2 separate regions of the Homo sapiens genome follow, and region 2 is linked to region 1. Evidence: fine-mapped expression QTL. Tissue or cell type: whole blood. Region 1 holds a variant in brackets; the other region holds the start of a gene. All regions are shown on one strand. Distances are between the middles of the regions.

Region 1 (8,108 bases):
CAAACAAATTCATCTGAAATACCTATAGTGGAAAACCAAGTATGATGAACAAAAGAAAGAGCCCTCATCTAACAAAAACAACAAGGCAAACACAATGAGGAATGGCAAATAACAGAGTCCCAGTGTTGGGAAGAAAATGGACAATAATGAGGCCTGTGGCAAAATCAATTTTCCTTCCCTATCCTAATAAAGCAACTGCTACTGAGCAATGGCTTATCTTTTTCACACAAGCACAGCCAGCATTTTCAGATTTTTCTCATTTTTCCAAAGATGGTGTAATTCAGATTTTCACATGAAATCTCTTGATTTTTTAAATTTTGGCAATCATAGCAGAGACACGATTGTTGCTACCTCGCAGCCATTCCTGACCCACTTAACCATCACTCACCTCCTGTTGCAAAGTCTGAAAAATCTAGTCACTCACTTTCCAAGACCTCCTGTTTCTAGTAATGGCTATGCATCAAAGTTTTGGCCCTTAAGGAATAAAGAATAGTTATCTGGGGAGATTGTAAAGAAAGTTGTTCCAGAAAGATTTTTTCTCTTCCCTGATAAAAGATGAGAGTGACATGAGGACAGATCATATTCACTATTTTGGCTCTCACCCTACATTTGCCTTTAGTTAAAGTCATTTATGTGACGTTATGCCTGGAGATGTGGTAGCCATTTTACAACCATGAGGGTAGAACAAGAGAATCATGGAGATGCCAACCTAGAGCTCTAACATAGTTAAGCCACTGATCTAATTCTAAACACATCTATCACTATTATTTTTAATGAGATGATAAATTCATTTATTAGCTAAAAATTGTGTAGAATTTGTTTATAATACTGTCAAGAATGCCTAAAATGTTCTAGCTCTTAACTGGGCTTATAAAGATTCAGTGTGACATCTTTCAAAAATTTCCACCATAGGTCACATGAATCTCTTTATTCACTCTTCTATTATAGTTTGGGTCATACCATACTGTTTAGAACTTTTTTGATAACTGTGTTATGGGTGGTGATTATAAGCTGTTAGACAGCTAAGCCATTTATGCCAATTTATCTGGGAAAGAAGTCATAGCAAATGGAGCATCTTTAATCACAATGGCCAATTTAAGTGATGGTGCTCCAACTTCAGAGGAGAAGCATGTATTTGTGTGAGAATCTCCTAAGAGATTTGGCTTTTCTTCCTGGAAAAATGCACTTTCTCACATCACACTGAGTTCTGAGTATACCTCCGTGGGCTTCACAGATTCCCAATCAGTTCAAGGCAAATTTAGAAGGAAACTTATTAGACCTGGGAAACAGTGAATGGGGACTGGGAGCAGAATCCAAAATAAAGTTTGGGAATAGAGAATAATCATTTTCCATAAAAATGTCTCTGTGGCCACCTGAGATAAACTCAATGATAAACAGACTTTCTATGATCTGTTCTCTGTCTTCGGATACAAATACAGCCTCAAAAAGGCAAGCCTTACATTACCTGATCATCTAATTTTATAGGTATAATACATAGCTATAATGTATAATACTGGGAAAAAATAAGCCAGTTTAAGAAGACATTCAGCAAAGAGGTAGAGAGAAAAAGAGGCTCTTGGTTTTGCCCAATCTGAGCATCAGACTCTTGACATATAATAATCACTGGGCAATGTCTCTATACGCCTCTTTCTGGAAGGAGCTTTAACATGGACTTTGAATTAAATAAATTTAAGTGTTACTAATTTTGTGTCAAGACTAGTTTTCTCTCGATTCTCTAGGCTTAGAGTATATATTTCTATGTTGATTTGTGTCTTAAATAAATAGCAAGAATTTTACTGCAGTATTGGTACAAAACTCTGCTCAGTGAAGCCAAGGGATCTGACAGGCAAAGTTCCAATCTCATCTTGGCACAGCCAACCAGCCAAACAGCATGTAACACTGTGATAATTTGAACATTTTCCTTTTCGAAAGCATATGATTCACAACAGTGTTTTTCTCTATCTAGTTTTTATCTCTCCTGAATCTCAAACATCTTCTTAAGTAAGGACTATTTCACAATCCTATTAAAAAATGGAAAAGCTGGTCACCTTAGATGAAAAAATATTAATGTAGTCCTAAAATTTCCTGAAGGAGAAACATATAAATATAGAAATATCTTCAAATATCTAGAGATTACTTCTTCTTGAGTTTACCAAATTCCGTTCTGAATATTTTGAGTTTGACTAGTGATGAGGACTTACAGCCTCTGGATAAAGCCAATGAAATCTGGATGTTTCTAGCTAATTAAGGAAAAAGCTCCCTTCAAAATTTTTAAATGAGAGGAAGCCTTGGATATAGCATTCGCTTTCTGTAGAGAGAAAATAATTTGCTAAGTGAAAAAAAGGAATTTCCAGAAAGAAATTACTAACATCATGTTCGTTTAAATTATTTTTAGACTCAGCATTAAAGACCTTTTGTTGTCATGTGTAAGCCAATGAGCACAAGATTAAATGCTGAGTTAACAAAAGTTAAACTGACTTTTCATCGTTTACTTACATCTTTAGTTACTTGGAAACAAAAAAAAATGATTTTTTGAAAAATAATTCCTTGAAGTCATGCAATTTAATGTAATATAGGAAGTATAAACAGAACATTTTCAATAAACTTCTCATAAACATTGCTCATCCAACAGCAATGCCCCAAGATTAGTTCAGTCATCACCTGATTTGTCCTGTGTGCCCATCTTTCACAATACCCCAGGACAGACAAAACTCCTAGAAAAGGAATGTGGAGCCCTAGAGTTTGAGACCTCCTGAGCTGGAAAAGTACTTGATGACATTATAATGACATTACAAAAGCTTTATACTATGAAAGCCACTAAAGAGCCTGAGTCCTCAAAGAATTGCCCATCAATGAGATCAGATAAAGGCAACATTGAAGAAACATCCTTGCATACTGGAACTTTGCCCTCTAGCCCCATCTCTGCTCTGGTATTTATTATTATCCATGCTTGTCATTGCCGTCCTGGAATCTAAATTATCAATTTAACATAGTGTATATTAGTGGGTTTGTAAAACCTAAATTCAGTTCAATTTTTCTGCATAACAAATCATCTCAAAACTTAATGGTTTAAAACAATCCTGTATTAGGACTCAAGAATCTCTAGGCCATCTAGATGGTTCTGCTCATTTGCCCAGGCTTGGCTAATCTTGGCTAAGCTCTTTCACATGTCTGAAGCCTTGCCTGGGAAACTGGGTTGACTCCTTGCTGGCCCACATGGTATCCCATTCTCCATCAGACTGCCCAGGCTTGTTCACATGATGGCTGGCAGCATTCCCAAAGAAAGAGTAGAAACCACACGGCCTCCTGAGGCCAGGCTTCTAAATCACACTTAGTTACTTCTCTGCATTCTATTTGTCAAGGAAAGTCATAAGTCCAGCCTAGGTTCAAGTTTTAGAGAAACAGAATGTACCTTTTTATGGGAGAAGCTGCAAAGAGAAGGGATCGCATTGCAAAGGGAAGGGTATAGAAAGAGATGAAGAATGGCAGCTATTTTTGCAGTATGACACAGAAACAAGTAACTCTTCTAAGCAAAAATGTTGTTTCTTTGTTGGGGGTTAATTTGGAAGGAGGGGAGGAATGATTTCTAACACCAAAGGGTCTTCACCAGTTGAGGCATATTAGCCAGGTAAAGCCAGGCTTCCAGCTCACCAAACTCACCAGTTTTCCC[CT/T]CTGCATTCTGTTGCCAAGCATGCCCATTCCCATCCAACAATCTTTAAGTTCACACCCAGGAAGGAGAGTTTGGAGGACAGTATTTGTTGAAAAATACTTTAGGCAGCCTCTGGCCTGGAATGCATCCACTGAACTGGAAGATTCAGTAAGTTGCTACAAAAATAAAATGCTCAGTGAACAAATGAATGCTTGGCTCCTTCTAATGAAAGGGGCTGGAGAGCTCAGGAACTGGCAGAAAAGGTCGGTGCAAGAACAGAGTCCTCAAGACAGTACTACCAACTCGCAGCAAGACTCCAAGTCCTCAGGGAAAAAGAGGAGGAGAAGAAAGCCCCTGACAGAAGGAAGCAGGATACCCGTGAAAACAAAGAGAAGATGAAAAAACAAAGAGGCAATAGAAATCTGGAAGACCAAAAATAAAACGTCTGAGTTTTAAGAAAGTTTAAAAATACTAGTTTTTCTAGAAAATAAATTACTAGTATGCATGCCAACTTTCCTGATAATATATCTATAATATTTGGATATATAACAACAAAAATAAATAGTTCTTTGATATTGGAAGGGTTTTTCCCAAGCTATCAATTACTCAGTCCTACTCTTTTTCTTCTATTTCCTCCAGTCTAGGGTTCTTTGTCAGATAAATGGAGACTCACAGAAATCCAATAATAAAAGAAGATAGCAGGGAATAGTAGACATTATTGACTACTATATATGAAAAGTTTTATCTATGTTAAATGTTAGCATCCTAACAATCCATAGAGGAAGATATCATTGTATCCCTTTGACAAACTCAAAACTTTAGGATTAGAAATGTAAACTAACTTTCACAAGGTCACCCATTTGGGATGTCTTGATTCACACCCATTTCTGCTTGCTCTCAAAGTCCGGTTGCTTAACAAGTTTTCTTAAAACTCTGAAACCAATTAAAGGCCTTTGTTTCGGTGTTGGGATAACCAGCACCAGCAGGACTGTTGAGCTGGCAAGCTGATGTGTCAGGTTAATGACAGATCCTAGGCTTGAACCCCTTCTGCCACCTTCTGGTCTAAGGCTTTCCCTCACATCACACTCCTAAGCAGGGAAATTCAATCAGTTAATTTATTCATTTATTCCAAATTTGCTTATCTGCAGCTGCTGTGTCCCATGTGCTGTGTGAGGTGACACAGAGGGAACAATACACAGAGTTCCCAGCACTCATGGAACATAAGACCCGGCAGTCCCAAGATAAATGCTGGATTGGAAGGAAGCCTAAAACAGGCAAAGTTTGGGGACTCAATTATCCACACGATTCTTAATTCTTCCTTCTTTCTTGTTCCTTTGATGTTTTGTTCTTCATTCCTTAGGTCGCCCCTTTCACAGTGCTTTATAACAGCAGACTTTATACAGTGTTATTCAATGACTCAAACAGAACTGATTTGAGTTCCCACTCCCCACATTCAAGACTTTCTTCTGTAATTAAAGGTCTGAAATATACTGAAAACAACAGCTCTGAAGTTCTGAAAGTCCTGAGTACAGTACCTATTATCACAGCAGTTCCCTAATCCCTTCAGTATGGTAGTAAAACTCATTGCCAGGAATTTTTCTCCATAGGGTGCTTACTGAAATATCTCATTTTTGCTGTAGTTTGATGTTTTTTTGTTTCTTTAGCACTATGCTAATATGTCTAGAGGGAGTTAGGCTAGAGTAATACCTCCAGAGAGCAAAGCTTGAGACAAAGGCTGGGTGCAGATGGTTTGAAGAGAGGCAGCCCCAGAAAGCAGAAGTGAGGGAGTAGGGAAAAGACAGTACAATCCATGTGTTAATCTGCTGATTATTGCTGTGGGCAACTACAGCTCACTCTCACTGAGGCTCCTCTGGGGAATGGCGTGGGCCATATCTCAGATTTGTCTCACCAGAGGACAAGAAGCCTGAGACATTTATGCACTGATTCCCACCAGCCTTTGGAGCAAGCCTATCTCATAGGGCATTCGCTTCCCCAAGCTTCCAGGTTGTGTCTGTATATGACTGATCAGCCTTCTGCGCTTTCACAAAAAGCACTCCAAGGCAGCAGAGAGAGGTCACATCCTGTGCTTGATGAGGGATGCTGTTAACTCACATGGAGCTGTCCACCTAAGCTGCACTAAAATCAGGTGGGCTAACAGGATGAAGCTCGGTGCATCATAAGCGTCTGCTAGAAGTAACGTCGATGTTTTTAAAATGGTAATAAGTATAGATACAATTTAGTAACTTGTAATTTACAAAGTGCCCTACACATACATAATTTTATCTGATTCTCACAGTAGCCATACTATGAGATTGGCATTATTATTATTATCACATTTTCCTCATGACATTCTGAGGATAAGAGAAGTCAAAAATGGTAAGAATATCCCATCCTACTTAGAGTTCTAATCTGCTTCTGCCAATTATAATTGATTGAATCAGAATATATTAGTTTGAATCATCAATACACCCTACACCTACTGACTTGAAAATGCTACACAGAATTTTTTAATTTTCAAATTGTTTCAGAACCACAAACACCTGCACTAATAATGCTCCAGAGAAAAGTCATCAACAACTTACATTCTTCTTATCTTACAATACATAAATTAGAACTATAGAGTCCAAGAAATAATTAACAGGTTCCGGTTTATCTTAAAATAGTCCCCAGTATAACTCATGTGGCAATTCCAACAATATGAATGTTTATTACTCATGCCAAAAATCCTCCATAGAAATCTGTTGCTGAAAACATTATGTGGCCATGTTCCCATATGCAGATACGCTTGTTTTTCTCTGTTTCATGCCAGGGTACTTAATCCAGTCATCATAATAATTGCTGTTTTCTCTGCCCTCTTTATATAATTATTAGTGTATGAATCTGAAAGAAACTTGAGATTTTTAAGAATATAGGAAAATCTACCAGAAACATTAATAGAATCACTCCCACATTTCACTTCTCTGATCTTTGCTTTTTCAAAAAATAGGCAACTAAGTACATTTCTCCTGAAATGTCACTGTGCATTTAAAAATATTCCAAGATGATATTTATTTTTATCCCTTATCCTCTCTGTAGCCAAATCTTACTTAGCAAATTTTGTACTTTGGTAATACAATCATAACTTCATTTACTTTGCCTACTAGCAAATATGCATATGTAACTCACAGTCCTTAAAAATAGAGTAGGTGATTTAACCTATAGAATGTGAGTTTATTCCAAATAACAGTAAAAGCACAGTAAAATTTTTGAAAAAAGAGAAAATATCCACTCTATAGGTCTGCCTTCCTGTCATAAAGTGAAAAGACAAAATTTTCCTAGTTCTTCTTAATAATAAAATCTGTTTACTACTATTCCCAAACAATTCTGTTAAATGGTGTGATGGAGTAACATTCCCACCAAAAGACAAATATATCTGTGTCACCATTTTCAGTTTCTTGATTATAATTATTTCTTACTGCTCGGCTTTGATGTATTTTGCAAACCACATCAGGGCCAGAGAGCCTCCTACCAACTTCCTCTCAATGTTTACAGAAAGGTTTACTATGTCTCTCTCTTCATCCTTTGATATCAGAAAGGTTCAGTCTACAAAACCAGGAGGATTAAAGGGCTGCTTATTAAGAAATTATTAATAACCAAGTTCTGAGCAAAGTCAACACATCAAGTTTGACAGATTTGTACGTGCCTCTAATATATTTGCTTAACTGCAGAGAAATGTTTCACCCAAGCGATCAAGCAAATAACTCATTAAAATGTTCAAAAGACTAAACAGCTTTTATTTTAGACTAAACTAATGAGAAGCAGTTGTTTTCCCACCATATGCGTGAAAACTTCAAGCATCACTTGAAGAAGGCAGATTTGGATCTTCTAGTCTACCTTAAATCCTGGTGGGATAAAGAAGCTTCCAATATTGTTGCTGAGAATCAATTGGTTTTCACAACAAAAGTACAAAACAAAGGTTAAGTTCTAATGATTGCAAAAACAAGGAACTGAAGTTGCCTACAGAAAGCACAGCAATGGGAATACCATAGTACATTCCACATGTCATCCTAGGACATTATTCTTGAAACTACCTATTTCAGTTGGAAATTACACTTTGTACCATCATATTTCTAATACTTCCAATAAATAAAGCTTCTTTGCAAGTGAAAACATATATAATCCCATTAGTAGAGTCAAAAAACATCTTATCCAGTATTTTGGGGTAGCTATACTTAGATAATAGACCACCCCTTATTTCTAGTTTCACTCATTTATGCAAATATAAAAAAGTACCTACCATGTGCCAGGTACTCTATGATGCACTGGAGATAAGAAAATAAAGAATGTATAGTCTCTGAAGTGGAGGAGAATCACTATGCAACAGAAGACGTAAACAGATGAAAACCACGGCAAGTAAAACATGCCCCAGTGAAGCTATAGGCTAGATGCGATGAGAGACCAAAGGAGGCAATAATTTAGC
Region 2 (8,108 bases), 120 kb after region 1:
CATGTCTTGATTGACCCTAACTTTTCTCATCTCTGTGCTTTTGCTATTTTCAACAACCACTCATTTTCTTCCTATCAATGCTTGAAGTTTGAATGCAAAAATGAGTAGAGGTATGGCTCTTGCTTTCAAGAAGTTTATGGTCTAGTAAAGGGAGACACCCATAGAAACAAGTAAGTGCAAACTGTTGAAACAGGTGCTATAGTGGAATTATTATAACACAAAAGGGACAATGAGGTCTGTGCTACCTCGTAAAGTCAGAAAAGGCTTCAGAGAAATGATCCTTGAACTGCATCTTGGAAATGAATGTTTGTCTAGTAAATTGGGTGGGAAAGGGCATCCTGGCAGGAGGAGAACAAAGGCCTGGAGAAATGAAGTGTCATGGTATCTTCCACAAACAGCTAAATATGTGGCCCATGTCAAATTTGAAGTGTGGGACAAAGCAACAGTAAACGCATGAGAGTAAGGCAGGGCCCAGATCACAAAAGCCTGGGGTATCATACTGAGGACTTTGGATTTAATCCCGTAGTTCAGAGACCATATGCTAGCCTTCATGGTATAATTTGGAGTGCAACATTCTTTTATTGATTCTAAACTCCTCTAGAAAGGACATGGTAAACTCTCTCATTCCCTTCACTGGAGTCTCTCTTACTCCTCTTTGTCTTGAACAAAGCCACTTAAAATATTTAACTTACCAGCCTGGTTCCTGACACCATTTGACTTTAGAATGTGGATAGAGGGAGCCATAGAAAACTTTTTACCAGGAGAACAACATGATCAGATGGGTGCTTTAGAAAGATCACTATTGCACAAATGAGCAGGGTGGGTTGGAAGGATGTGGAAATGGACACAGGGAAGAAAGTTAAGAATGGATGAAACACGAGGCTCTGAAGGCAATGGCAAGGAGAGATCCAGGAGATGTTGAGAAGGAAACGTTACTAGGATATTGTACATGATTTAAGGAGGGTGGGGAGTCTCTCACAGGTAGCAAGTCCTCTCCTTTCTCACCTTCTCAACCTCTCAATTTAAGGCTTCTGTTCAAGTTGTCCCCCCTCACTGAAACTGCAGCCCACAGTGAAATTTTCCTCCCTCTAAACTAGTAGTTCTCAAAGTTTACTGTTAATCAAAATCACCTGAAGGGCTTGTTACCACACAGATTGCTGGGTCCCACCTTTAAATGTGGAGCTTCAGAATTTGTTTTTCTGACAAGTTTCCTGCTGATGCTGCTGTTGCTTGTCCAACCACTGCTCTAAACTTATGACTTCTATGAAAGTAGGGACCATACTTGTCTCCTTCACAGTGCTGAGCAACTAGTAGTCACTTCATAAATACATGATGAATGAATGAATTATGGAATGAATAAATCAACATTTATCCTTACATTTGATAGTACACATGCACTTTTTGTGCATTTCTCACCAAATGACTTTTGCGAAAACCAATGCCATAGCATTAATATTGTGATAACAATGTACAGTCCATAAAATCATGGAAATCACCATTTTAAAAAAATCATCTGAAATTTAAGTCCTTCCAAATAACTCTTTAGCAACACTTCTGTTAAAGTTCTTGAGTAACTGTAATCTCTTTTGAATATTGCCATTTATAAAGCTATTAAGGGAATCCATTATATAAAGGGACTTGGTCTCTCATTTTCCTGGCTGCTTCCCCCACTTCAGTCAAGTTGGAGATATTCTAATTCTTCCATTTCCTTTAGAAAAGCTGAATAAGCTACCCTAACTTTTATACCCATCGTTGTTTCAAACAACCAAAGAATGGGTACTAAATCAGCATTGAAATTCTTGTTCTTTTATTTATTTATTTTTGTTCCAAAATAAAGATTTTTTTTTTCCCCAGGATTTCACCTTTATTAAAAACATCATTTTTAGAGTTGACATATCATGGCGCTATTCTTTTTTTTTTTTGAGGTAGAGTCCCGCTCTGTCACCCAGGCTGGAGTGCAGTAGGGCAACCTCAGCTCACTGCAACCTCTGCCTCCTGGGTTCAAGCGATTCTCCTGCCTCTCAGCCTCCCAAGTAGCTGGGACTCCAGGTGTGCACTAACACGCCTGGCTAACACTATTCTTTAATAAAACAAAAAAGAAAGAACTCTGTAAATTTTCCCCACGATTGGTTTGGTGATATTAAAAAGTTAACCTCCATAAAAACCATTAGCAAGGGGAGGAGTTGAAGTCTTTCAGGAATTTGTATAGTGATTCACTATTGTGTGACTACATTGAGTGATTAACCAACAACTCTATTCAGTACCTGCTGTGTGCAAAGCAGTCTGAGACAGATGGCACAAGAGACTTTTAATCAAATAGGGAAGACAAAACTAATGATAACTTACAGTGAGATAGCGTTTTAGTTGAGGAAACAAACTATTATGAAGAGAAAAACAAAAGTCATTTTGTTCCCCCACAAAAGTACCCTATGACCATTCTATCTGTCAGGGGAAAGCCTTAGCTGACAGCTTTCTGCCCTTCACTTGACACCTCTGCTTCAATACCAGAGCATTTCCACTTTGGTGTTTTGTATATAGACAATCTTCCTATGTTTTTGTTTTTGTTTTTTTTTTGTAGAGATGGGGTCTTGCCATGTTGCCCAGGCTGGTCTTGAACTCCTGGGCTCAAGCGATCCACCTACCTCGGCCTCCCAAAGTATTGGGATTACAGGCGTGAGCCACCATGTCCAGCCCCTAAAATTTTATTTGAAAAAAAAAAAAAAGTTCTGTTGCATTTTTAAAAGTTACAAGTACTGTATAATATATACTATTCTCATATAATTAGTAAAGGATAAATAAATGTATCAATGGAAAAAGAAACCCAAATTAAGAGGAATAAAGTTTGTGATAGCTATATCTCCAGACCCAAGCCCCCAATCCATTGTGTAGTTGGACGAGACTACATTTCCCAGACTCTCCCCTTTTATCTTTTTATGTGTTTTTAAATTTTTTTTTTATTTTTTGTAAATCTGGCCTTACTGAAATACCCCCTTTTATCTTGATGAGGCCTCATTCTTAGTAATGATATGGTAGAGAAAATGCTGTGTGTCATTTCTGGGCTCATGTGGTTAAAAGTAGGTGTGACTTTTTTTTTTTTTTTTTTTTTTTTGTCCAAGCAGGCTGCCTGGATTTGTAAATAAAATTTCACTAGAACATAACCATGCCCATTTATTTTCAAGTATTGTCTGTGGAGCAACAGCTGCAGAGGCAGAGTTAAATAGTTGAGACAGACCTTATGGCTCACAAAGCCTAAAACACTATGTGGCCCTTTACAGAAAATGTTTCTTGACCCCTGTTCTAAGGTATGGAAGGAGACTGGGTCCACTGACATTATGACACCTGCATTATTAAAGTGTTATATGAGCCAGAAAGAAATTACTCTTGTGTTAAGCCCCTGAAAATTTTAGTTACAGACGGTAGTAACATACTACTATCTGTTGAACACACCATACTTGGAAGGTGGTCCAAAGATTTACATATTTATTAAAAGCGTACGTATATTTGGGAGACGAATAGTCATTGAACTGGATGTCATAGCTTAGGGTCTTGTTCGGAGATTCTGGAAGAAAATTTCAATTCTTAAAAGTAAACAGATGAAACATCAAGAAATTTAAAAGAGGTTATTCAGGCAAATCACTTATCTTAAGAAATAAAGTCAAGAAAAATACTTCGTGAGGTTGAAAAGGAATTTCTGCAAAGAAGGAAGCCACTGGTAAAGTACACTTTCAAGAACATGGTGGGGAAGAGACTGGATTAAAGTAGTAAGGGATGCATCTTCTAAGAGGAATAAAAGACCTTGATCACATGATCTACCTAAAAAACAAGTCACAAAATATTACTTACCCTTACTGTGTGGGATGCAAATTTTTATTCCCTTCCCGCCCCCGACATTCTATAATATTGCGTAATTATTATGCATGTGTTTTACGCTGGTCACCACGCGGTAAACCGAATCCACAACCCATTATTATGTCGCAACCTATGGTTTAAAAATACACTTCCTTACAGAGGAATCATATACTAGTTGAGCTGGAACTTAGATTTTCAGTCATTAGCCAAATTCTGAAAAGAATCCATATAACAAACCCAGCAGAGTTTATAGCCATGGTTTTGTTTTTGACGTTTGTTGCTCCTTCCTTCTGTAGTCTTTCATCCACATCTATGTAGAACGTCCTGACAATCTGCGAAGAGAAGGCTCTAAGGTGGTTTTATTTGTGGGGAAAGGAGGGAGGTACATGCGGTTTCTCCACCTTAATAGCTGGATCAATTAGGCTGGCCCCGGAGCGCAAAGGGATCCGGGTTTCTGAGAGGCACGTGCCAGCACCATTCGCCCGATACCTCTAGACCAAAGCCGGCCTCCCCTCCAGCCGAGCTCCTCCGTCCTAAAGGACTCGACATCCCCCTCCTCCAGGCCCACACCCCTCAGCCCCGGAGCCCAGGCCCCGCCTCTCCCTGCGGAACCCCTTCCCAACCTGTACGACCAGGCCCCAACTCTGGGTCGAAGCACCTCGCCCCTGCCGGCCGAGGCCCCCCACCTTCTTCCGAACAGCCCCTTGCCCCCCGCGAAGGGGCAGCCGTAGCTCCCAGCCGAGCTCCCCCGCTCCTGGCCCCGGTCCCCGACCCCGCCCCAGGCCCCCGACCCCGCCCCTGCCGGCCGAAGACCCCGCCCCTGCCGGCCGAGGACCCCGCCCCTGCCGGCCGAGGACCCCGCCCCTGCCGGCCGAGGACCCCGCCCCTGCCGGCCGAGGACCCCGCCCCTGCCGGTGGCTGCGGTAGCTGCTGCGCGCTGAGGCGCCTGCTCAGTGTGGGACGCGGAGAGCGAGGGGCGGCGGCGGCGCCCGCTGGCGCTCAAGCATGGCGGCGGCGGCATTGGGCAGCTCCTCAGGCTCGGCGTCCCCGGCCGTGGCTGAGCTCTGCCAGAACACCCCGGAGACCTTTTTGGAGGCCTCCAAGCTGCTGCTCACCTATGCTGACAACATCCTCAGGTGCAGGGCAACGGGGTCGGACGGCGGGTACCGGGGTGGGTGGGCCGCGGCACCTTGTTCGGCCAGGGACTGGGGCGTCCGGCCTGAGCTTCAGAGGGCAGCGACGCCCGGACAGACCGGGACCTGGAGCTGGTTCTGCTCCTAACGTCCGAGCCCGCCGGCCAGGGGCCTCGGGACCCGGCCAAGTCCCACCCCCGCTCGAGAAAAGGAAGTTTCTTTGCAGTTGTGACTTGGCACCTGCAGTCAGGGTGCTGCGGGTGAACTGGAGTCCCGGAAGCGGGGCCGGGCGGAGGAGAGGTAGGAAGGCGTGCTTCAGACACTGCCGCTCTTCTCGTCGTTTAACGGCCTCAGATATCGGGACACAACGGTAACCGCACCGCGCGTGTCATTCCCCCTGCGTGCATTTTTCGAGCGGAGTGGCTTACATTTCCACATACTTATCAGAAGTTACTCACTGACAAAGTGATGTTTTCTTCCCATGTTGAGACTATCCGAGTACTAAAGCATAATGCTTCTGAAGTGGTGGGTTTTAAAATTTTTAATTTTTTTTCTGCCCACTTTTGTTGATTGAAACATTATAGTATTTTGAAGTTACAGTTTTTATATTAATACCTGGATTCTACTATGTAACATAACCCTTTAAGAATTCGTGGAGGTAATCGCCTTGGATGAGAGTAATTTCCTTCATTCTCCTGTCAGCAAAATTGCACTTCTAGAGGTCTAAGGGACCTTGCAGATTTTGGGAATTGGGAGGCAAGTTTGATTATTCATTTTGAATAAGTACCCACCTCAACTCTTCAGATCAAATGATCTGAAGGGACATGGTGTGGGGGGGTAGGGAAATGGAACTGAGGTTAAAGGAGAGCCACTTGCTTTAGGGGTGTTACCTCATTTATCAGGTCACCGTGATTAATTAGGTTCTCTGTTCCCCTCAGCCCCTGGTGCATTAAGTGTTTGGTATATTGTCATGAAGTCTAAAAGGAAATTCTCAGTTTCAAGGTTATAGGTTTCACGTGACCCAATTTTAGACATTAGTTACATGTGCAGTTTTTAAAATCCATGTCAGTAATATTTCATTTAGGCAATGGTAATGATTTTTAAAGTAAATTGAAGGGAAAATATATTGAGCCCTTATTTTGTGGCAGATGCTATGAAAGATGCAACATGTGGCCTGTTCACAGCTACATAATTGTGACCTGTGTGGGGACCACCTTCGTGCTCTGTGACACCTTCTCAACTCACCTTTTTTACTCTTTGAGGCCTTACAGCTCTTCACAGTACAAGGATGCCAAGGGACTCCATAAATGAACTGATAGGCTGGGTTCTCCAGAGCCCATTAGCTGAGACTTACCACCTGGAAAGCCACCAGGCTATTTAAAACCCCACTAGTCAGAAAAGAGAGGTGGCCTTGTAATGAAGCCTCACTTCTGCTTTAAATCTAGTGAAACCCAAAATGCTGAGGTTTAGTATGAGGGGGAAACCTTTGCATGCAAATAATGACATTTAGCATCATAATCTTCATTATGAATGTTTACTAATGGCTCGTTGCTGATTTTCGTTTTTGAGACGGAGTTTGCTCTTGTTGATGAGGCTGGAGTGCAGTGGCGCGATCTTGACTCACTGCAACCTCCGCCTCACAGCTTCAAGATTCTGAAAGATGAGGGGTGTGACAATGAGCGCAAAGGATAGTGGACACACTGGAATAATGCTGAGAAATTAAGAGTTTAAGAAAGTCTTTGTGCGTTGCTTTTCCAAGGATAGGAAAGAGGATATGATGGGTTTGAAGTCTAATGTCCCTACAGCCCTCTAAGTCTTTGAGGGCTTTAGGGTCAGGCCTTTGGTATCAGTCTATACACAAAACCACGGTCAGTTTACTCAACATACTTAATAAGAAAAAGAATTTGAGGAACTGGATGTGACTGTCATTGCTGGAGCCTGTTTGCAGTATACTTTTACTGAGAAAAATAGATTAATGTGAGGTCCAGAGATGATATAAAAATAAAATTGCTCACTGGGCACGGTGGCTCACACCTGTAACCCCAGCACTGTGGGAGGCCAAGGTGGGCGGATTGCTTGAGCTTAGGAGTTTGAGACCAGCCTGGGCAACATGGCTAAACCCCGTCTCTACAAAAAAATTAAAAAATTAGCCAAGCGTGGTGGCAGACACCTGTAGTCCCAGCTACTTGGAGGGCAGAGGTGGGAGGATGGCTTGAGCCCATAATCATGCCACTGCATTCTAGCTTTGATGGCGAAGTGAGACCTTTCTCAAAAAAGAAAAAAAAAATGCTCACTAGAAACTAAAGAGGAAAATCTATATTGTATATCAATAGTTAAATGGTAACAACATATATCAAAATAACAAAGGCCAGTCGAAGTGGCTCCAACCTGTAGTACCAGGGCTTTAGGACACCCCAGGTAGAAGGATTGCAGCCGGGGCAACACAGTGAGACCCCATCTCTTAATAAAAAAAAAAAATAGCCAGGCGTGGTGGCTCACCTGTAGTCCTAGCTACTTCAGAGGCTGAGGCAGAGGATTGTTGAGCCCAGGAGTTCTAAGCAGCAATGAGCTTTGATGGCGTCATTGCACTCTAGCCGGGGTGACAGAGCAACACTTTGTTTTTTAAAAAACAAAACAAAAACTATATGAGAACTGATGTGTATTTTATAAGAATTTTTAAACAATTGTGAAAGCAGGAAGAAACTAGAAAATTAGCCCAGAGAAAGACCCAGCATGTAGAGATCTGAAAGCTGTGAGGAAAAGAATAGATTAAAATAGCTCAAGCAGTTTTGAACCAGTAGGATATATCATCCTGGTGGTACTGACATGTTTATCACCCTGTGAAATACATTGAGTGTCAGGAAAAGATGCCCCATTTATCGAAAACTAGCTTTGATAAATGTAGGATTATTTTATAGTTCAGTTTTCTTAAGTGATAAGAAAGAGAGGCTCACTTGTGAGACAGTGTAGCATGGAAGCCAGGAATGCGAATGTTCTGCAGTGCACAAGGAAACTCCACTGAGAAAAGGCCCCACATGTTAATGGTGCTGAGACTGAGAAACCCTAATCTAATACACAGAATAAAGAGTTGAGAATAAAATTTTCTTTGTATTTCACAACCATCTG

What was found. PIP is the estimated chance that this variant, and not a neighbour inherited with it, causes the effect.
Region 2: it holds the start of NGLY1, and the variant in region 1 is fine-mapped to the expression of NGLY1 in whole blood (INTERVAL, PIP 0.98). The same link has a PIP of 0.9 or more in fibroblasts and skin.

The regions. Positions count from the first base shown.
Region 1 is chr3:25,901,053-25,909,160 of GRCh38, reverse strand. The region is part of intron 1 of LOC124909357 (a long non-coding RNA gene); the gene reads right to left. Among named protein-coding and RNA genes, the nearest start is that of LINC00692, 31 kb to the right of the region's middle. RefSeq lists an enhancer at 2,432-3,097. The variant CT/T (reference allele first, on the strand shown) is at 3,671.
Region 2 is chr3:25,780,137-25,788,244 of GRCh38, reverse strand. NGLY1 (N-glycanase 1) reads left to right here and starts at 4,802. Exons shown (of 12, transcript NM_018297.4): 1 at 4,802-4,985. The coding sequence starts at 4,855. RefSeq lists a silencer at 4,613-4,852 and enhancers at 5,163-5,212, 5,373-5,452, 6,840-7,009.